Regions from separate parts of the Homo sapiens genome. Here region 1 is linked to region 2. The links come from fine-mapping of genetic effects on plasma protein levels. A gene starts in region 2. The other region holds a variant in brackets. All regions are shown on one strand. Distances are from middle to middle. Region 1 overlaps OAF (out at first homolog). Region 2 holds the start of OAF (out at first homolog).

Region 1 (10,631 bases), 19 kb after region 2:
CAGCCTGCAGGAGCCCAGCTGCAGGCAAGGCCGAGAAGAAAGAGTGTCTGCACATTGGAGGCCAGTGGGTTGATGGAGGCCCTAGAGCATTCATTCGTTCCTCCAGCTACTAAGCATTGAGCCCCAGCTGTGCGACAGACCCCAGGGTCACCATGTGAATAGGCTAGAGTCGCTGCTCTTGAGCCAGAGGCAGGTCACAGAGGGCTTGGATGACTAACTGCCTGGGCAGAAGGTGCTCCATGAGGACAGAGACCATCTGACTGGGGCACTGAGATCCAAGGCACTCTCACAACCTCAGGCAGAGTCTGATTCAGCTCCAAACCACAGGTCCCTCATGTCACCCCAGGCTCAAACCCACCAGTGACTTCCAGAGAGGCACAAGAGGAAGCCTCCCACTCCTCAGCCTGGTTCAGACCCTGCGTCCTGCTTGTGTCCTGACCCCTTGCCAGCCTCATCAGCACTCACGACCCTTCCCCTCCTCCCCTAGTACATTCCCACCGCTTTTCTCAGAGAACTCTTCCATGCTGTTGTTCATTCACCCTTCATGTATTCCTTATCAGATGTTTATTGAGCACCTGCTGTGTTCCAGGGGGCAGGGATGCACTTCAAGCAAGCCACTTTTCCTGGCTCAAGAAGTTGAGTCTGGAAAGAAAGACAAGTAAAGAGGTCAGCAAAAACACAGTGGGAGTAAACAGTGGGATTTGTGCTCTAGAGGCAGCGACTGGGATTGGCCAACTCTGCAGAAGGGCTGGTGAGGGCAGCACTGGGAGGGCAGTCAGAGGAGGGTCGTTTGTGAGCTGTGCCCTGCACACAAGGCACAGCTGAGACAGCTGAGCACAGGGCATCCCGGCAGAAGAACCTGCTCACAGAAAGGCCTAGGGGTGACACAGCATCGCTCATTCTGGGAACTACAAGCTCTCCGGTTCAGTGCATGGGAAGTGCAACAGTTGCTGTGAGCAGGGACCTGGGATGCCAGGCTCTGGGGTTAGGCTTTCTGGTGAGGACAAAGGGAGCCCTTGAAGGGCATTCGGCCACTCGGGTGATAGTAGCATGGAGGGATGATTGGGTGGGGGCACTGGGAGACTCATGCCTGGCTGTCTTCTGTAAATGCCTCATTGCTGGAAAGCCCTCCATCCTTTAACTGTCAAGGGCCAATGAGGAGTCCCTCACTGTGCGAAGTCTTCCCTCCCTCATGCCACCCCCAGCCCCAACCTTAAGGGGACAACGAGCACTCCCTCATCCACCCTTTACCTCCATTGCACTTGGAGTAAACCTCAATCCTAGGCCTATTGTTTGCTGACTTGAGTTGTCAGAAGTCAGCCTCCTCCACCATCCCCTGGAAAACAGGAATCTGTGTCTTGGCCAAGGCCACTCCCCTGCCCAGGTGTTTGTGAAGGCCCTGCCCCATGTCCTGCTAATCAGTGCTCTCCCACTGATTGGCTGATTACTTGCAAGCCCCAGAGGAGTCACCTGACCTGTCTAGGCCATAGGTACATCTAGAAGAGAACAATCTCAACTCCTGGGTCTTCAGGAGTGGAGTAGATTTCAGGTGGAGCAAGGCAGACATAGAGCCAGGAATTGCAGCCACAAGAGAGAAACTGAAAGTTCAGCCCACTGTGTTCTGAAACCTTTCACTCATTTATTCCCTGCAACAGTCCCTTGAGGTAGATACTATCATTTTATTCAGCTTGCCAATGTGGAAACTATGGTACAGAGAGGTTAAGTAAATCCCTTCAAGGTTATGTGGCCAGCAGAGGCAAAGCCAGGATCTGAACATGGGTAACACTGGCTCCAGAGCCTTTGTTCTTAAATTCTGTGCTATCCTAGAGCCTACCTACTCCTTACTTAAAACTACAGACGAGGACCCTAGCAAACACTATTTCCCCAGGGTACTTGCCACACCCTCTGCGTGGCCCAGATCCTGGCCCTGGATGTAGTATGCTCCAGTTCTTCCAGGTAGGCTGGAGATTCCTGGAAGCTTGTGGGAGAAGGAGCCTTATAACAACCTCCCGTCTTGGGGACCCTATCCTGGGTCCTGAGCCTCAGGAGCCTGCCTGCAGTCCCTGTTGTAGGCTCTTCCCCAGCTAAGCATCTGCTTTAGGTGTTAGGCCACATGAAGTACGTCATCCCAACAGATTCCTGGGCAAGGAGGAAGGCTGGGAGTCAGGCTTCCATCTGGCCTGGGCTTAGCATCTGAGGGGACTTTCACCCTTCCCTGTGAAGGTTGGAAGAAGAGGGGGCCCCAGAACCTTGCCAGGGAGTCTGAGGTGCAAGGAGTGGAAAGCGGGAGGGACACTGGTCAGGATGATGGAGTCCTGTTACCAAATAGACCCAGAAAGTAGGGCTGCCCACTCCTTCTCAGGGATCAGCAAGTGGAATGTGCTTTTCTGGGGAAATAGGACGAAAGGGCCGGGCGCAGTGGCTCACACCTGTAATCCCAGCACTTTGGGAGGCCAAGGCAGGCGGATCACCTGAGGTCAGGAGTTCGATACCAGCCTGGGCAACCTGGTGAAACCCAGTCTTTACAAAATACAAAAATTAGCCGGGCATGGTGGCACATGCCTGTAATCCCAGCTACTCCAGAGGCTGAGGCCGGAGAATTGCTTGAGCCTGGGAGGCGGAAGTTGCAGTGAGCCGAGATTGCACCACTGCACTCCAGCCTGGGTGACGGAATAAGACTCGGTCTCCAAAAGAAAAAAAAAAAAACAACCATGCACACAAAGGAGAGACCGGAGAATTTGTAGTTTAAAAAGTCCTGGCAGAGGCCGGGTGCAGTGGCTCACGCCTGTAATCCCAACACTTTGGGAGGCCGAGGCAGGCAGATCACAAGCTTAGGAGATCAAGACCATCCTGGCCAACATGGAGAAACCCTGTCTCTACTAAAAATACAAAAATTAGCTGGGTGTGGTGGCCCATGCCTGTAGTCCCAGCTACTCAGGAGGCTGAGGCAGGAGAATCGCTTGAACCCGGTAGGTGGAGGTTGCAGTGAGCCGAGATCGCGCCATTGCACTCCACCCTGGTGACAGAGTGAGACTCTGTCTCAAAAAACAAAACAAAACAAAAAACAAAAAAAGAAGTCCTGGCAGGGCAGGCAGGCGGGTTAGAAGGGTATTCCTGCCTCCTCTTCTCTTATTTGTGTCATGCTGTTTGGTAGTTGCAGGAACCACGAGCCAGAGCCGCCACATTCGAAGGCAGGTGTGCTGACTTAAGGCAGGCTGCCGCCAGATGGGCATGATGGGGAGCGGGTCCTAATCCCACCTCTGCTGCTGGCCAGCTCAGGCATCAAGGGCAGACCGCACAACCTCTGTGTGCCCGAGTTCCAGCTTCTTTAGCTGAGCATCAAGGAGATGAGACTAGCTGATCCAGGAGGCAATTATGGATTCTGGTTAAGAGAGCTCAGGCTTTGAAGTCAGACTGTCTGGATTAAGATCCTGGCTATGTTTCCTCTTAGTCCATGACGTTGAACAGGTTACCTAATCCAAGCTCGGTAACAATCATAGCTCCTACCGCCTGTTGTAAGGATTTTAAAAAGGATCATACATCCTTTTGACCCATGGAAACAATGTTTTTTCTCTTCTAGTTACAAATTTCAGTAACTCTTTTTCCTATACAAATAGGAGATACAGAGGAAATCCTCTCAGTGAGAAATTATCATTCCCTTCCTGCACCCCCTGTCAGTTCCCATTTTGACAGCATTTTGTTATTGTCATTGATGACATTATTAATATAGAAGCAGGAAAAAAGCTCAAATAGATTTCTTTCATCCTCTAGTCTGGTCTGAAAGTTCAAATACCTTCTTTTGCCAACGGTAGTCAGGTGATGTCACCAAGCAAAGAGACCCCTGAGCAGCCCTGAGACTTCCGGATATTTCCTGCACCTGCGGTATTGGAGAAGATGCTGTGAATATCCAGATAGGCTTCTCTCCAAAGAGTCAGAGCTGAAAATACCAGGGAAGTGGTTTTTGGATCCTTCCTGGGGGATCCTGCCAGGGACATGGCCTGGCTCAAGCTCTAGCAGGGGAAGTCTGGTATCAAGTCTCACCTGGCAGGAATTGAGCCCAGAATGGAATATGCTACAGGCAGAGCAGCCTCCCATCTCTCCTCAGCCGACCTGAGTGAGGGGAAGATCAGATAGCCCAGGCTGGCAGGACAAGGAGATTGCAGCACCATGACCAAGAAGGGATTTCCTGTTGAGAGGAAGCAGGGGTTGGCTGAGCTCTGATCACCTTCTTCACAAATCTCTGGGATCATAAGGAACCTAATGGAACCTTCCTCAACAGCTGAGCCTCAGTTTCCCTTTCTGGAAAACCTCCCCCTATACTTCCATACCTCATCGTTCCAGAGATGATTTACAATAATGGCAAGTAAGAGAAACTCTGTAGAGTTAAAGGACTGCAGAAATACATGGGCATTTATGAGATGACATGCACTCGTTTGTTGCAGACCACCTACGATGCTTGCTGGTCACCTACAAGAGTAATCCCAGCTAGCGCTGACCCCATGTGAGAATCTTCAGATAACTTACTTAGTCCTCACCACAACCCTGTCACATAACTGGGATCATCCCCATTTTACACATCAGAGAAATTAGGGGAAAGCCTGGAGGACTCACTAATACATTGCAGCTTCGGGGCGGAGCTGTGAGTCCCTTGCCGCATGTATTGGACTCCAAGGGGGCCACTCAGAGCCTGTTGCTGAGACACTTCTGTTCTCGCGGGTGTACAGCAAGTACTCAGTGACTGTGTGGTGGGGGGAGCTGGGGCCCGGGCATTAATAGATGATCCACAGAGCTGTCATTCTAAGTCTCAGTGCAGAGCCATAGGGGTTCCCAGCAGAGAATGGTCACTGAGGTCAGGGTGCCTCCACCACAGGAGGGGCCTTGACAGATGTAGACCACTTCTGACTGGGACCCACTAACTTCTCACTGGGAGCAGAGTTAATCAAGTCACAGAGATGGGTAAGAAGGCAAGGGGCCACTTCTCATGTGGTGAGCGGTACAGGTGAGCAGAGCACAGGGCTCCAGCAGCCGGATAGGGAAGGGGGCCCCAGCCCACCCTACAGCTCTACTCCCTCCATCCTGCTGCAGACCCCCCATTCACACAGTGAGTCAGTAACAGGAAGGAGCCCTTGGACTGCGGCAATGCCATTAGCGACCCCATGGGGGAAAGGGGAAGTGGGGAGGGAAAGGAAGAGGCGAGGCATCCTAGCTCCCTCAGGCCGGAAGGCTGCAACAGCTGCAGCCAGCCTCCCACTCTGCCCTCACCCCGTCCCGGCCCCACCACTCCACTCACTCAGTGGTCGGTGGCCAGGAGCCTGGCCAATCAGAAGCACCAAGGGCATCTTGAGACCTCTCCCCAGATCTACTGAATAAGAATGTCTAAGATTTCTAGCCATTACAACTACAAAGAAAAAAAAAAAAGAGGAACTCTGGAATCGGTACTGGAAAAGTCCAGCCCTCCTCCATGATGCCCTGATCAGGTGCCTGTAGAGGCCCTGACCCACCCTGATCAGGGTGACGTTAAGGGGTTCTGCCGAGAGGAATCATCAGCTGGGAAAAACTCTAGTGGTTCACTTTGTCAGTTTTCCAGGATCTTTGGAACATCTGGGGTGTGTTCTTTCTTTCAAGTCACGGGTTTAAACGGAAAAGATAAAAATTCCTAGACCAGCAGGAGGGAGGTGTCTGTTGCCCGGCAGTGTCCAGGCATCCTGTTCAGGGGCCAAGCTGAGCACCCGGTGGGCCAGTGGGAAGGTCCCACACCCTCCAGCCGTTCCCATCCTCCTGCCCTTCTTCAGGATGTGAAGGTCTTCCGGGCCCTGATCCTGGGGGAGCTGGAGAAGGGGCAGAGTCAGTTCCAGGCCCTCTGCTTTGTCACCCAGCTGCAGCACAATGAGATCATCCCCAGTGAGGCCATGGCCAAGCTCCGGCAGGTAAGTGCCCCACCAGGCCTGCCTGGCCCAGGTCCTGACCCGCAGCAGACCCGGCCCAGATCCCATCCCGCAGACCCGGCCCAGATCCTGACCTGCAGACCCGACCCCTGCAGCCAGCCTAGCTCTAAGCTCTGATTCCCCAACCTTAGCCTCCCACCCAGCTCCTCATCTTCACGCTGTTCCTGGACCCACTGCCCTTGACCTGCCCTCATCCCTGGTACCCCATTCACCCTAGAGTCCTGAGCCCCTGATTTTGCCCCAGGCCAAACCTGACCCTAGAGCTGCAGATCACTAACTGAACCCCAACTCTCAGATTTCTCCCATCTGGTTCCAGCACCTCCCCGTGTGTGACAGGCTAGGGGCTTGGGCTCTGAGGTCAGATCAGACATCACATCTCCTCCGTCACTCATTAGTTGGGTGACATTGGACAAGTTACCTTCAAAGCCACAATTTTCTCACTGAAACTGGGTTATGGGGGAATTCAGTGAGCAAACATATGTGAAGTGTTCAAGACCCTCAAAGCTGCCGGCCTGCTCCTGCTGTCTTCTTAGACCCAGGGCCTTGCCCCAGCCTCATCTGAGTTCCCTGGCCTGCCCAGCAGAGCCTGCCCTGGGGGCCTCCTCGCCCCTGCGCTTTGCCTGCTTTCCCAAAGGGACTTGGTTCCCTGGATGTTGGAAAGTACGTGATTCCAGAGGTCATATGCCCTGGCACAGCTTGCCTGGCCCACCCACCTCCACCTCCCATCCACACCTCAGCATTCTCCATCAAGCCCCAGAGGTCAGCCCAGTGGCCAGCACATAGTTTGGGAAGCATCCATTCTGGATAGAGGCTGAAAAGGCTCGACTGTACTCTAGGCATCAGCTTCACTGCCAGTTGGAGAGGGGTGGGGCTGCCACCCTGCAGATGGCCCCAGCGTTCTAAAGGCAGTCAGCTTGGGCTCGCCTGACTCTGGAGGGTCAGGGGAAGATGGACAGGGAGCATTCTGAAGCCAGGTAGGAGTGACTTCTCTCCCACACACAGAAAAATCCCCGGGCAGTGCGGCAGGCGGAGGAGGTTCGGGGTCTGGAGCATCTGCACATGGATGTCGCTGTCAACTTCAGCCAGGGGGCCCTGCTGAGCCCCCATCTCCACAACGTGTGTGCCGAGGCCGTGGATGCCATCTACACCCGCCAGGAGGATGTCCGGTTCTGGCTGGAGCAAGGTCAGCTGGGAGCTGGGCACTGCCCGCTGCTGGGCGGAGGGAAGGGGACAGGGAGACAGCACAGAGCAGTGGAGGAGGGCAGGGGCATCATTAGTTGAGTCTCATCATTAGCCAAGTCTCATCATTAGCCTTTCCTTTGTTCAGGAGACATTTACTGAACACCTACAGAGATGTACTGGCGCAGGAATCAGAGATGTAGACACTCAGTTCCTGTCCCCCAGCAGGGTAGATCTGCACAGAGTTAAGTGTGATAGAATACCATGATAGCTACAGGCGTTCAGGGAGGGACCCCCAAACCAGGCTACAGTTGGTCTGGGAAGGCTTCCTGGAGGAAATGGAGCCTGTGTGATTATTCAGCGAGAAGATTCAGCCAGAGGAAAGGGCCCTGCTCCAGGCAGGGCACACAGACTCTGCTAGGCCCTGTGGAGGGAGATTCCCAGGTACTTCCCCTTGTCCCTGCCCTTAGTGAGGACACAGAGATGGGGCCTTCTGTCATGGGTGTGGGGCACAAGGACACCCTGCCCCCCTCCACTGACACCTCTCAGATATCAGCTTCAGGCCCTCCCTGGTGCCAGCATCTCTGCCCCAAGATCCTTGGAAGCTCCTCTCCATACTGCATGGTC[C/T]CTGCCTTCCTGACCTCTGTGACTTCAGCGCTGACCCCTCTCTGGGTACCTTTTCCAGGACCGCCCTCAGGTCCCCTGTGTGGAGGGGAGAGGGAAATGGCGCCATTCCAACTCTGAGCCCCTGTGCCTTCTGCCAGCCAACTGAGCACTGGTGAAATGCCTGCTCCTCCCAGGGCAGGCCCAGATTTAGAAATACCCAACCAAGCTGTGGTCTTGCCCCCCACACACATACACCCTCCCCCATGGCCTGCACCCCAGACTATGCCGCAAGCTTGACATAAGTGTCCTCCAGAAGCTGGCCCCTCCCATACAGCCCCTGAGCCTAATCAGGCCGGTACCTTCCGTCTCCTCCAGCGCCCCAATATGCACACTTTCCCATTTGATCCAAGCCCTGGCCACCCTGACCTGACCTGCCCCACTGTGGGTGTGCTTTGCTGGCCCTTCTCTGCCTAGCCCTACTCAGATGTCACTTTTTTTTTTTTGAGATAAAGTCTCACTGTTGTCCCCCAGGCTGGAGTGCAATGGCACGATCTCGGCTCACTGCAACCTCCGCCACCCGGGTTCCAGCAATTCTCCTGCCTCAGCCTCCAGGATAGCTGAGATTATAGGTGCCCGCCACTGTGCCCAGCTAATTTTTGTGCTTTTAGTAGAAACAAGGTTTCACCGTGTTGGCCAGGCTGGTCTCAAACTCCTGGCCTCAGGTGATCCACCTGCCTCAGACTCCTAAAGTGGGATTACAGGCATGAGCCACTGTGCCCGGCCAGATGTCACCTTTTTTAAGAAGCCTTCCTTGACTTCCAACCTTGTCTCCCCACGCCTCTATCTCAGCACACTCCGGTATGGTGATTTTTTAAAGCATTGGGTGGCAGTGTGGTCTAGTGGAGGCCTTGAAACCTTGGCCAGATCATTAAACTCTGGGTCGATGTTCTCATCACTAAAACAGGGATGACGATACTTAGCCCATGGGGTGACTGATGGAGGTACTGTAAGTAGAGCCCGTAGCACACAGTTGATGCCATAGAGGAGGGTGATTCCTATTTAATCTGTTTCTCCCACGAGCCCAGCAAGGAGGAGCCTAGTAACCAGGTCTTACCTCTGTGTCCCATGGCAAGCTTGGAAATGGAGGTGTCTGTAAATGCCTGTGGGATGACAGAGGAGACCAAGTGGGGAATGGCAGCGGCCTCTGACTAGGGGAGCTCCTTCCCTCCCTCCCTCCCTCCCTCCCTGATCCTTGCCTCTCTCCCCCAGGTGTGGACAGTTCTGTGTTCGAGGCTCTGCCCAAGGCCTCAGAGCAGGCGGAGCTGCCTCGCTGCAGGCAGGTGGGGGACCACGGGAAGCCCTGCGTCTGCCGCTATGGCCTGAGCCTGGCCTGGTACCCCTGCATGCTCAAGTACTGCCACAGCCGCGACCGGCCCACGCCCTACAAGTGTGGCATCCGCAGCTGCCAGAAGAGCTACAGCTTCGACTTCTACGTGCCCCAGAGGCAGCTGTGTCTCTGGGATGAGGATCCCTACCCAGGCTAGGGTGGGAGCAACCTGGCGGGTGGCTGCTCTGGGCCCACTGCTCTTCACCAGCCACTAGAGGGGGTGGCAACCCCCACCTGAGGCCTTATTTCCCTCCCTCCCCACTCCCCTGGCCCTAGAGCCTGGGCCCCTCTGGCCCCATCTCACATGACTGTGAAGGGGGTGTGGCATGGCAGGGGGTCTCATGAAGGCACCCCCATTCCCACCCTGTGCCTTCCTTGCGGGCAGAGAGGGAGAGAAGGGCTCCCCAGATCTACACCCCTCCCTCCTGCATCTCCCCTGGAGTGTTCACTTGCAAGCTGCCAAAACATGATGGCCTCTGGTTGTTCTGTTGAACTCCTTGAACGTTTAGACCCTAAAAGGAGTCTATACCTGGACACCCACCTCCCCAGACACAACTCCCTTCCCCATGCACACATCTGGAAGGAGCTGGCCCCTCAGTCCCTTCCTACTCCCCAACAAGGGGCTCACTATCCCCAAAGAAGGAGCTGTTGGGGACCCACGACGCAGCCCCTGTACTGGATTACAGCATATTCTCATCTCTGGCCCCGAGGCTGCCTGTGGGGCGAGTGGAGACCTCCCATCACTGAGACAGATCACAGACCACGAGTGCCTTTCCCGGACCTGGACGTTGCCTCCAGAGCAGGCACCAGCTCTTTCCCTCTCTACACAGAAATATTTTTGTAAGGTTCTGGGGCAGGGAGGGAGCATGAAGTACGAGGAAAACTTGAATTCCAGATTTTTAGTGCAAAGTATTTATCATTTCTACCAGAAATAAACGTTTTAAGTTTTTACTTGACTAATGAGACCCAGAGTTTGGAGAAAACTTTTGGCCAATGCTGCCACCTGATGTCAGAAAGTGTCCCCACACCCTAGCAGTGGCCTATCTTGGAACAAGAACTTCGAAAGCACCTACTGTGTGCTCAGCCATTTGAGGAAGGAAGGAGGAGAAGGAAGATGTTACTAGGGAAGGATGAGATAAAACTTCTGCACCCAAGACAATGAGACAGACATAGCTGCAACCGTAGTAAGCCAGTCAGAAATAGCCAGCGCGAAGGCAAGAGATGGGGTGGAGATTGGAACCCCGCTTCAGATCTGGGCTCGGCTACTTACCTGCTGTGCAGCCATGGGTCAAGTTGCTTGACCTCTCTGTGCCTCCACTCCCTTAGCTATAAAATGAGCTTACTTAAGAGACCGAAGTGAATTCTTGCATGTCAAGCATCTAGCACATAGTGCTGTTAGCCATTCTTAGTATCATTACTATTAGTGAAAAAAGCAGACATTCCTGCAGCTATAAGCCTGACTCAATGAAATCAGACATCTGGAAGGCTCTTCACTTCCAAAGTATCTTTCAACA
Region 2 (10,736 bases):
CCCTGAAGCAAATTCATGGTTAAGGATCCCTGCTGGGGACATCCTTTGATCTGTGAATCATTGTTAACAGCAGGGAGCAGAACAAAGGTACAGGAAAGAGGACCTGGGCCAAGGAAGGGCTGCTAGGGCTTCATCCCTGGGTCAGGAAGCCAGGATTTGGCTCTTGGGTTTCTCGTCCATTCTGGGGAGCACTGAGAGGCAGGTAGGGCAGCAGGGTTGGAGCTAGAGGTCTGAGGGTCTTGTGGCAGGAAGAGCTGAGGTGACCCAAGAGTGTCATAGACACTCCAAACTCACTCCAGGGCTATCAGACAGGAAAGATAGCAAAGGAGGGTAAGAAGAAGTTTTGGCCGGGCGCAGTGACTCACACCTGTAATCCCAGCACTTAGGGAAGCCGAGTTGGGCGGATCACTTGAAGTCAGGAGTTCGAGACCAGCCTGCCCAATATGGCGAAACCCATCTCTACTAAAAATACAAAAATTAGCTGGGCATGGTGTCCCATGCCTGTAGTCCCAGCTACTTGGGAGGCTGAGGCAGGAGAATCGCTTGAACTTGGGAGGCAGAGGTTGCAGTGAGCCAAGATTGCACCACTGCACACCAGCCTGGGTGACAGAGCAAGACTCCATCTCAAAAATAAATAAATAAAACGTTTCACTAATCTCCACTTGGTATAGGCACCATCCTAATTGTATACTATATCACATTTAGTCCGCATCATAACCAACTGGAGTAGGTACTAATATCCCCTCTTTAACGTGGGAGGAAGCAGAGACTCATCGGTGTCAGGAGGAGGCTGTCATTGGCTCTATTTCACACAGCTAGCTAACAACAGAGCCAAGATGTCAAGATCAGGGGCCTGGGAAGGGTGGAAACTGCAAGCCCACTTCCTCCCAAGGTATGGGTCCTGCTCTGTGTCCTCCCCGGTTGCCATCAACAGCCCTTTCACACGTTCCACTCTGTTATTTGCAGGAAATAAGAGAGAAGTTTCAGGTGAGTGGTGACAACCAGATCCCCAACCCCTCTGCCTTCATCCCTGATGGCCTTGGCCAGTGCCCCCCACCCCCTCCCTGCCCCCAGTCACCACACAAAGTCTTGGGTTTAAAAGTCACTTTGGTCTCCTGCTTCCCAGAGTTATCATAAGAATTAAGTAAGAAAATGAGTCCAAAGTTCCAGGCTTACTGTAAGCAAATGATGAATCGTGACATGATTTCTCACCACTTTGTTTTTAATAAGTGGGTTATTTGGAGGAAGTAATTTAAAATTCCAAATAGAAGACATATAATATGATTTTTTTTAATTTTAAAGCTGAGCATTAATGAATCCTCTTCTTTCCTCGTCTATAAAATGGAAGTCAGAATAACACCCCTCACAAAGGTTTGTGCTATTTGACTTTGATGAGAATTCATGAAAAGTCTATGACATTCTCCTGCAGAATATCATCACATATAAATAACTCCTAATATGGATCATACTCTTTTGATTTGCACACACGATGTGCAGGTGAGAGAAACTGTTCACACTCAGGAAAGGGTGGAAAGTTTACATTCAAGTCAAGGACATTTGTGTTGTACATGAGAAAGAAATTTCTAGTTGAAAGTAGCTAAGATCCTGTGTTTGTACAGCAGTAATTGAGTCCCCTCGGGACATTATGGGGTCTTTTCCCTTCACAGACATGAAAAGAGATATACAGGACACTCTGTCTCAGGGGGCTGCTAGAGAGGAACCTGGCTGAAGGCATAAATCAGAGTTTAAGTGCATAGCATTCAAACTCTGCAAAAAGCATCAGAATCACAATTTGTAGTCTCCTTTTAAATCTTTTCTACAAGATTGTATAGTAGAAAAATAATAACCAACAAATGATTAGAGTACGCTGTCAACTCTTTACACCATGGTGTGCTCTATAACTTTATTAAGAACGATGTGTGGGCCGGGCATGGTGGCTCACACCTGTAATCCCAGCACTTTGGGAGGCTGAGGCGGGTGGATCACAAGGTCAGGAGTTTGAGACCAGCCTGGCCAACATGGTGAAACCCCGTCTCTACTAAAAATACAAAAAATAGCTGGGCATGGTGGCAGGTGCCTATAATCCCAGCTACTCAGGAGGCTGAGGCAGGAGAATTGCTTGAATCCAGAAGGCAGAGGTTGCAGTGAGCTGAGATCGTGCCACTGCACTCCAGCCTGGGCGACAGAGCAAGACTCTGTCTCGAAAAAACAAAAAAAGAATGATGTGTGGACTGTGTCAATATGTGGAAATGCATGTAGGAAATAATATTAAGAAAAGCAGGACAGGAAACACAGGGCATGCAGCGATAACTTCATAAAAACCACAATGCTCAGAAGATAATCTGAAATCAATATTGATCAGGTTTTATTTTCTCTCCAGTGGCCTAACACGATTACATGCACTTTTTAATGGCATGGATAGGTGGAACGTGGGATTTTTAGCATAGTGAAACCCTCTGTATGATACTGTAATGGTGGATACATTTGTCAAAACCCATCAAATATACAGAACCAAGAATGGAACCCTCATGTACACTGTGTACTTTGGTTGATTACAAAGTGTCACTACAAGTTCATTGATTGTAACAAACATAGCCCTCCGGCAGGGATGCTGATGGTGAAGAGTATGAATACATAGGGGCCAAGGGTATATGGGAACGCTGTACTTTCCACTCGATTTTGCTGTGACTCCTAAAACGGTTAAAAATAAAAAAGTCTGTTTTAAAAATGTTTAAGCTCCATTAGGATGTTAATTGGAAATGCACTAAATGTATATATTTTTATCACATTTTTCTCGATAAACATAGTATCTTTCCATTTGTTCGGAAAAATGAAAGATCTTTTTTTAAAAAGTCATGATAGTGAGGGTGGCTCTGAGATCCCCAGTTCAGGAGAGGGCAATGTTCCCTTTTCCACTGGATAAGAAACTAGGCCCTGAGCCTCCCTCCCTGGATAATGCTAGAACCTTCTTAGACTCTCTAGCCTAAGCCTTGATGATACCATCAGTCAGATGGAAGCCAGATGTTCTGATAAGGGGGCCCATAGCAACTGTGACAGGAAAAGGGAGACAAGCTGATGGCTCTGGTCAGAAATGGCCCCTGTCCAGGCTCAACTTTGTTCACACTCAGCCCCCTGATGAAAAAGCAGGATGTCCCATCCCAAGCTGTAACACGCACATTTTTCAAGAGCAATAAAATACCAGGCTAAAAATCCAACTGATTTTTTAAAGTAATAAATTTCTGGCCGGGCGCGGTGACTCATGCCTGTAATCCCAGCACTTTGGGAGGCCAAGGCGGGTGGATCACGAGGTCAGGAGATCGAGACCATCCTGGCTAACACGGTGAAATCCCGTCTGTACTAAAAATCCAAAAAATTAGCCGGGCGTGGTGGCGGGCGCCTGTAGTCCCAGCTACTCGGGAGGCTGAGGCAGGAGAATGGCATGAACCCGGGAGGCAGAGCTTGCAGTGAGCTGAGATCGCGCCCCTGCACTCCAGCCTGGGCGACAGAGCGAGACTCCATCTCAAAAAAAAAAAAAAAAAAAGTAATAAATTTTCTCGGGGATTTGCATAAAGGAAAGGGTGTTTACCCATTAAAATGTAATCAACACAAGGCACACAAACCCTGCCAGATCCCATCTTCTTGCCGCAGGCGTACAGTCTAAGGTCTCTGTGGCTGAAGGCAGCGACGCTCCAGACCAGTGAACAAGACCTCTCTTCTCTAAAGCCTCCCTGAGTGTGCCCTGATGAAGGACTTGCCAGGGCATGACGGGCAAAATGCTCTCAGGGACAGATGTCTGAGTCTCCAGGTAGGAGCAATACTGGCATCTGAAAAGGGCCTGAGGTCTTCCATTATAATGAGGTGGCCCAGCCTGCTCTGGAAGGTCCTGGATCACATGGTCAACAAGATTCTTGAGGGCAGGGACTGTGTCTCAGATTCTCTCTCCCATAGCCCAGTGCCAGGTACACAGGGCTACAGAGATGTCATTATTGAGCACCTTCTGCATACAAAGCACCATGCTGGGCATAAGGTGGACGCAAAGAGGGGCCAGGTTCAGCCTACAAAGACCGTGAGTGAAGGCGGTGACATGGAGCTCTGTGCCATGTCAAAGGAGGAGACGAGCCCTGGCTTCAGAACACCAGGCTTCTAATCTGAGCGGCACCACTTACAGCTGGCCTAGGTTCTTTTGTAGCCTCTGGTTTCAAACACAAATGCTGTGAAATAATTATAGCAAGAGGCAGAGGGTGAAAGGCACCTGAAGAGCTACCATAAAGGCAATCCCAGGGCTTCTCCCCAGCTACCCAACCTTAATTCATGGTGCCACAGCCTACGCAAGCCAGAACCAGGAGTTGCCCTTGACCGCTCCTGCTCACTTGCCCCAGTCCAAAGAAACATCAAATCCTACTCCCCCGTGTTGCTGAATTCCAACCCCTCTCCACACCCCTACTGCCACCACCACCACCCCACTCATCAGCACTACTTGTCATGGCCACAATCCATTTCCTGAGCACAATATTTTTAAAATACAAGTCTGATCATGTCACCCCTTATATAACACCTTTCGATGACTGCCCATTGATCTTAGGAAAACAAAACAAAACCAAGCCCAGTGCTAATATTGCCTCCAAGGCCCTGCGTTTCTTGGGCCCTGCCAAACTGTACTGCATGATTTCAAGCAACTCTTCACCCCCGTCATGCCCTAGCTACCTGGTGATGTTTCTGGGAAGCCCACCAGACTCAGGTCCTGTACACAAGCTGTTTCCTTTGCCTGGAACATTGTCTTTGCTGGTCAATGCTGATTCATCTTTTAAGATTAGGCTACACCTGGAAAAGCCTTCCAAGAAGGCCTCCTGGTCTAGGCTAGACTCTCCTCTAATTCTCCATTATAACAATTATAATTAAAATATTTTGTTTTGCCATGATTTTATAGCCTGCTTCTCTTGCATGTTCCATCTCAGGGTAAATAATTGTTGCATCTGCCTTGTTCCACTGCTGTGCCCACAGCATCTAGTGCAGTGACTCACTCTTCACGTGCTAGATGACTGAATGAACGAGTGAATGCATGAGTCTGGGGGTGGGGAGCAGGGAAGGCCTCATGGAGGAACTAGCATGGAGGAAAAGAGGTTATGTTTGGGACTTTTTTCTGTTTGTTTGTTTTGAGACAGAGTCTTGCTCTATTGCCCAGGCTAGAGTGCAGTGGCATGATCTTGGCTCACTACAACCTCCGTCACCTAGGTTTAAGCAGTCCTCCTGCCTCAGCCTCTTGAGTAGCTGGGACTACAGGCACACGCCACCATGCCCAGTTAATTTTTGTATTTTTATTAGAAACGGAGTTTCACCATATTGGCCAGGCTGGTCTCGTACTCCTGACCTCCTGATCTGCCTGCCTCGGCCTCCCAAAGTTCTGGGATTACAGGCGTGAGCCATCGTGCCCAGCTATGTTTGGGACTTTCAAGAGTCAATGGGCAACATGGAGCTCTGTGCCGTGTCAAAGGAGGAGACAAGCCCTGGCTTCAGAATGCCAGGCTTCTAATCTGAGCAGCACCACTTACAGCTGGCCTAGGTTCTTTTGTAGCCTCTGGTTTCAAACACAAATACTGTGAAATAATTATAGCAAGAGGCAGAGGGTAAAAGGCACCTGAAGAGCTACCATAATCAATGGACTAATCAATGGACTGAGATCTGCCTTGGCTTGCAGCTCTGATCATCCAGGCTTCCTTTTCCTTCCTGAAAGTCATGGATCCAGCCCACCTCCATGACAACTTCCCTTCTGCCTGGTTTTTCTGCCCGAAAAGAATAGCTTCTCCATGCCTATCCCAGCCATCTCCACTTCTCTTCCCTTTCCACTCAGTATCCCCACCAGCTGTCTCTCCAATCCACTTTCCCACCACACCCTTGATGGATGGAACTGCATAATTGTGTGATGGCGGAAAGCTAATTTGTACTTCTGTGCTGGCAATGAAGTGTCTGGAGCTTTGCAATTGACATTGAGAAGCAGAGGGGATCCCTCACTCCATCCCTGGTTCTCCCTCAAACTCAAATCGCAAATCCTCCACTCTATCTGCAAAGGCCCAGAGACAAAGGGGCTGTAACCTAACCCAAACCAAACAGCCACTCACAGAAAGTCATGGGAAGAAAAAAATCTTTCCAGTCTTGCAAAGACAAGCACCTGGTGGTTCTCTCCCTGTCTCTCGGTAAAGGTCATTGGTTCAGTTTCCCTTTCCACCTCCTGCAGGGTCTTGTCAGCACCTGTTTTCTTGGGCACAGATTGGGAGATGGTTTGGTGTTTCTCTTCCTCCCAAATTAAGGCACACTCAGACCAAAAAGCAAAGGGAAAGTGCCTCCCGAGGTTTTGCTGCTATCCATTTCTCAGTTTCGGAGGTCTCAAGACACAGAAAACTTAGACACCTAAAGAGGATAGAGAGGAAGAAATATTTCTTTTTTATGTATTTATTTTTTTCTTTGAGACCAACTCGCTCTGTTACCCAGGCTGGAATGCAGTGGCACGATCTCAGCTCACTGCAGCCTCTGCCTCCTGGGTTCAAGCGATTCTCGTGCCTCAGTCGCCGGAGTAGCTGGGATTACAGGCGCCCACCACCACACCCGGCTAATTTTTGTATTTTAGTAGAGACGGGTTTTGCCATGTTGGCCAGGCTGGTCTCGAACTACTGACCTCAGGTGATCCACCCGCCTCGGCATCCCAAAGTGTTGGGATTACAGGTGTGAGCCACCGCGCCCAGCCAAAAAAATGTTTCTGAAAGAATATGTGTACATGCACGCGTATACATGTGGCAGGGGGTGAGAGGGAGAGACTTGTATAATCAGAGATTTAGTATGTGATACAATGGGAAAGAATAAACAGAATTAAAGGATAACAGCCACCATTTATTGGATCTGTACTATATGCCAAACATGTTGCGAAATATTTTATGCACAATGTTTCATTTAATTTTCAAAGCAACCCAGTGAGGGAGAAACGTATGCGCCCATTTTACAGTTGAAGAAACAGGCTCACTGACGCACAGCTCATGACTGGGGCCGAGCTCCAGGACTGAGATCCTGATGCCCATTTTCTGAACCACTACTGGCTACTGCTTTCCAAGGGCTAGAGATGAGAAAAAAAAGGAAATTGGTTTATGGTGTGGCAGAGGTCTTGCGATGAGACATGAAGAACTCTCTGACAATGAGGGCTGTTTGGTTGTAGTCGGAGTAATTAGGCTTGTTAGAGCTCTTCCTCTGACGGCCTTTACATTTAAGATGAATGGATGCTTCTATGCCCGGATGGTTTGAGGGAAACGCTGTCTGTTCCCAGCACGGGGCTGGCCTGTTTGAACTAGCTGACGGCTTCACTGGGGATACAGGATTGCCACACGCGAAACCGTTAGATAACAGGAGAAGATAGCGCAGGATGTGAGCCCCGAGTGGGACTGGCAGAAAGTGAGGGCTACCGACAGGCAGAGGCTACTGTGGTTCAAAGCAAGGGCTTTGTGGTCAGGCGGGCAGACTTGTGTTTGAGTCCCGGCTGGCTCTACTGCTTTTGTGACCTTGGGTATGTTGCCTAACCTCTCTAAGCTTTGGTTTCCTAGTCAGTAAAAAGAGCCTAAGAATAGAACCTACTTTGGAGGGATGCCATGAAAATTAAATAAGATGATCCATGTAAAATGCTTGGCACAGAACCTGGACATAATCAAAATACAATGGGGGAGGAGCTGCTATAATAATGACTATTGTTGGAGTCCAGAGGCCGGAGACAGTGGCACAGAACAGAGGGCTAGGTCGGTGGGGAGTCGAGAAAGTCTTCCTGGGAAACCTGAGTTTTGTCCTGGAGCTTGAAGAGGTGGTCAGGTGAAATCAATAGCAAGGCATAGAGATGTAGGTAGGCAGGGCTTATGTAATGGAGTGAGATTTCAAATGCCCTATCACTTTCAAAGAAAAATCTGGTTTGATCTGTGGTTGAAGTAGAGAAGGAAGTTGACTATGGGGAAGAGGTGGGAAAGAGATGAGGTCTTCCATCCTTGTTTCCAAACCCAAAATGTGAACAGAGACAAACCTCAGGGACCTAAACAAGAAATCTGACATCCAGGGCTTCTTTGCCCACTTCTGGGCTGTTGTGGGAGGAGAAGGGGTAAGAGCCTGGGAAATGGCTGAGGGCAGAGCTGGTGGCGGATGGGGACAGGACCTGAAACAAGGGAAGTTAGGAAATGTGGGCGAGGCCCTTAATGACTGTGTGGGCTGACTCATGTGGGAGACCTAGCTTCAAGGCCGCATGGAGATCCAGCATCCTGTCAGGCGGGAGGCCAATTTCAAGACCCTGGGCATCTCTAGTCTAAACGGTTGCCAGCTAAGAGTGGGAGTCCTTAGGGGAGCAATCCTTGTGCTAATCCAATTATTCCCTAACAGCCTGCCTTATCTCCCGGATGTGAAGATGAACTCCTTAGGAGCCAGGTTCTCCAGGAAGGATGCTGCTTGTTTCAGATGCTCTATGTTTTTGTTTTGTTTTGTTTTGTTTTGTTTTGTAGAGACGGAGTCTTCCTCTGTCACCCAGGCTGGAGTGCAGTGGCGCAATTTTGGCTCGCTGCAACTTCTGCCTCCTGGGTTCAAGCAATTCTCCTACCCCAGCCTCCCGAGTAGCTGGGATTACAGGCGCACGCCGCCACACCCAGCTAATTTCTTTTGTATTTTAGTAGAGACGGGATTTCACCTTGTTGCCCAGGTTGGTCTCGAACTCCTGAGCTCAGGCAATCCGCCCGCCTCGGCCTCCCAAAGTGCTAGGATTACAGGCATGAGCCACCGCGTCTGGCCCAGACGCTCTATGCTTAAACATCTGCCAAATACCTGCTGTCAACCACTTATGTCGAGCATCATGTGGGCCTTGTCAAAAATGCTAATCCTCAGTTCTTTTCCCTAGAATCTGATTCCATGGGTTTAGGGATTCGGGAATCTATTTTCTAACAAGCATCCAGGTGATTCTTCAGGAAAGGCAAATTTGGAAAAGGCTGACTTGGTAGTCTCTTAAATTCCCTTCAGTCCTAAATCTAGGCAGCAGAGAGCGGGTAGCGGGAAGGGCCCCTGGATGATAGCAAGAGGCCGATTCTAGCCGGACCCTGCAGTTCACATGGCCCTGTGCTGGGGAAGCCCTAGAAGGGAAGGAGGCTGCAGAGAAGGGAGTTTTCACCCATCAGTAATCAAGGTCCCAACAGAAGTGAAAATGGAAGTCAGGGAACAATTGGTTTTGAGCATCTTCGTGGGGCTTTTTCCCTTGCCTGGGACTGGCAGGACAGTGTAGGTCTGAGCAGCTTCCACGATACACACGGGGACACTTAAGCCCAAAGAATTTTTAAAACGTGCCTAAATTCCACAACTAATCAGAGGAGGCAGCAATCCAGATCTCCTGGTCTTCACCCTTCTTATTGTTGGGGTGCACCGCAGGGCACGCATGTTTCCTTGTGGCTTGTGGGAAAGCCACTGTCGTGGAGCGCCAGCGTCCCGAGTCCCTGGAAATTCTCCCAAGTGACCTGGAATCCAACATTTCCCTGGATTTTCATAGTCTATAATAGAGAGAAAGAACCGGGTCTGCGGTGGTGGGCAGGACTGAGGAAAGGCCGTGAATGCGGGAAGCACGGGAGGCAGGACTGAAAAGGAAAGAGGCACAGGGGCTCACAAAACCTGAGGGCCGCGTCCCAGTGGGTGACCTGACCCATCAAGGTCTAACACCTGGCCGTGGCAAAGCTGGGCGAGAACCCCCGATCCACCCTCCCAGTGTGGGGCAGGGAAAAGGCAGAGTGCAAAGCGAGGTCTGATTTTGCAGAAGCTTTTTAGAAATTCGCTGTCAGAGAAACTGAAAGACCAAACAAAACCCCTAAAAATCCAAGCCCGATTATTTCATCCACGTGGCACAAAAGCAAGCCAAAAAAAAAAAAGCGGGGGGGGGGGGTGGCGGTGCAGGGCGGGGGAAGAGTCACCCGTCCTGCCCCTGCTGGAAGGAAGGGATTTGCCCCGGGAGAGCAAACTTCTGACTCCGCCTGGGTCGCTGACTCCGCGCGGCCGGGCGGGAGGGAGGTCGAGGAGGCCGCTCGCACAAAGCCGCGGAGCCGCTGCCCCCTCTCCCCGCCCCCTGCCCGGCCAACGCCGAAGTGCGGAGAGCAGCCGCGGGCCCTTTAAGGGCCGCGAGGTGCGCGGTCTCTTTAAGGCGGGTCCTGGTGGTTTCTGTTTTCTGAAGGAAGTGACGGGGGGTGGGATTGAATGAAAAGTGCAAAACACAGGCTCGCAGCGCTGGAGCCCGGGGCCGCGGAGCCGGGCCGGGGCAGCGCCGTCTCCGCCTCGGGGCCGCCGGGGGCGCCCTGCTGAGCGCTACCCACGTGCGTCCGCGCCACCTCGCGGGCGACCCCGCGGCCAAGGCCCCCGGCGGAGCGGCTCCCGGGCGCCCCGAACTAGCCCCCAACTTTGGGCGAAGTTTGCCTGCGCCTCTCCCCGCCCCCACGCGGCGCGCCGGGGCCGCGGACGGCAGCGGCCCCCGGGGATGCGCCTTCCCGGGGTACCCCTGGCGCGCCCTGCGCTGCTGCTGCTGCTGCCGCTGCTCGCGCCGCTGCTGGGAACGGGTGCGCCGGCCGAGCTGCGGGTCCGCGTGCGGCTGCCGGACGGCCAGGTGACCGAGGAGAGCCTGCAGGCGGACAGCGACGCGGACAGCATCAGCCTCGAGCTGCGCAAGCCCGACGGCACCCTCGTCTCCTTCACCGCCG

The links. A credible set is the group of variants that fine-mapping cannot tell apart. PIP is the posterior inclusion probability: the model's chance that the variant is causal. Sun 2018 read protein levels with aptamers (SomaScan).
Region 1: its variant is the best candidate, but not a certain one, in a credible set for the plasma level of the OAF protein (Sun 2018, PIP 0.65).

Annotation. Positions count from the first base shown.
Region 1 is chr11:120,219,869-120,230,499 of GRCh38, forward strand. It overlaps OAF (out at first homolog), which reads left to right. Exons shown (of 4, transcript NM_178507.4): 2 at 5,793-5,927; 3 at 6,948-7,128; 4 at 9,000-10,466. The coding sequence ends at 9,274. Among named protein-coding and RNA genes, the nearest start is that of OAF, 14 kb to the left of the region's middle. RefSeq lists an enhancer at 842-1,341. The variant C/T (reference allele first, on the strand shown) is at 7,752.
Region 2 is chr11:120,200,764-120,211,499 of GRCh38, forward strand. It overlaps OAF (out at first homolog), which reads left to right and starts at 10,269. Exons shown (of 4, transcript NM_178507.4): 1 at 10,269-10,736. The coding sequence starts at 10,517. RefSeq lists an enhancer at 9,022-9,563 and silencers at 9,897-10,156, 10,337-10,386, 10,477-10,586.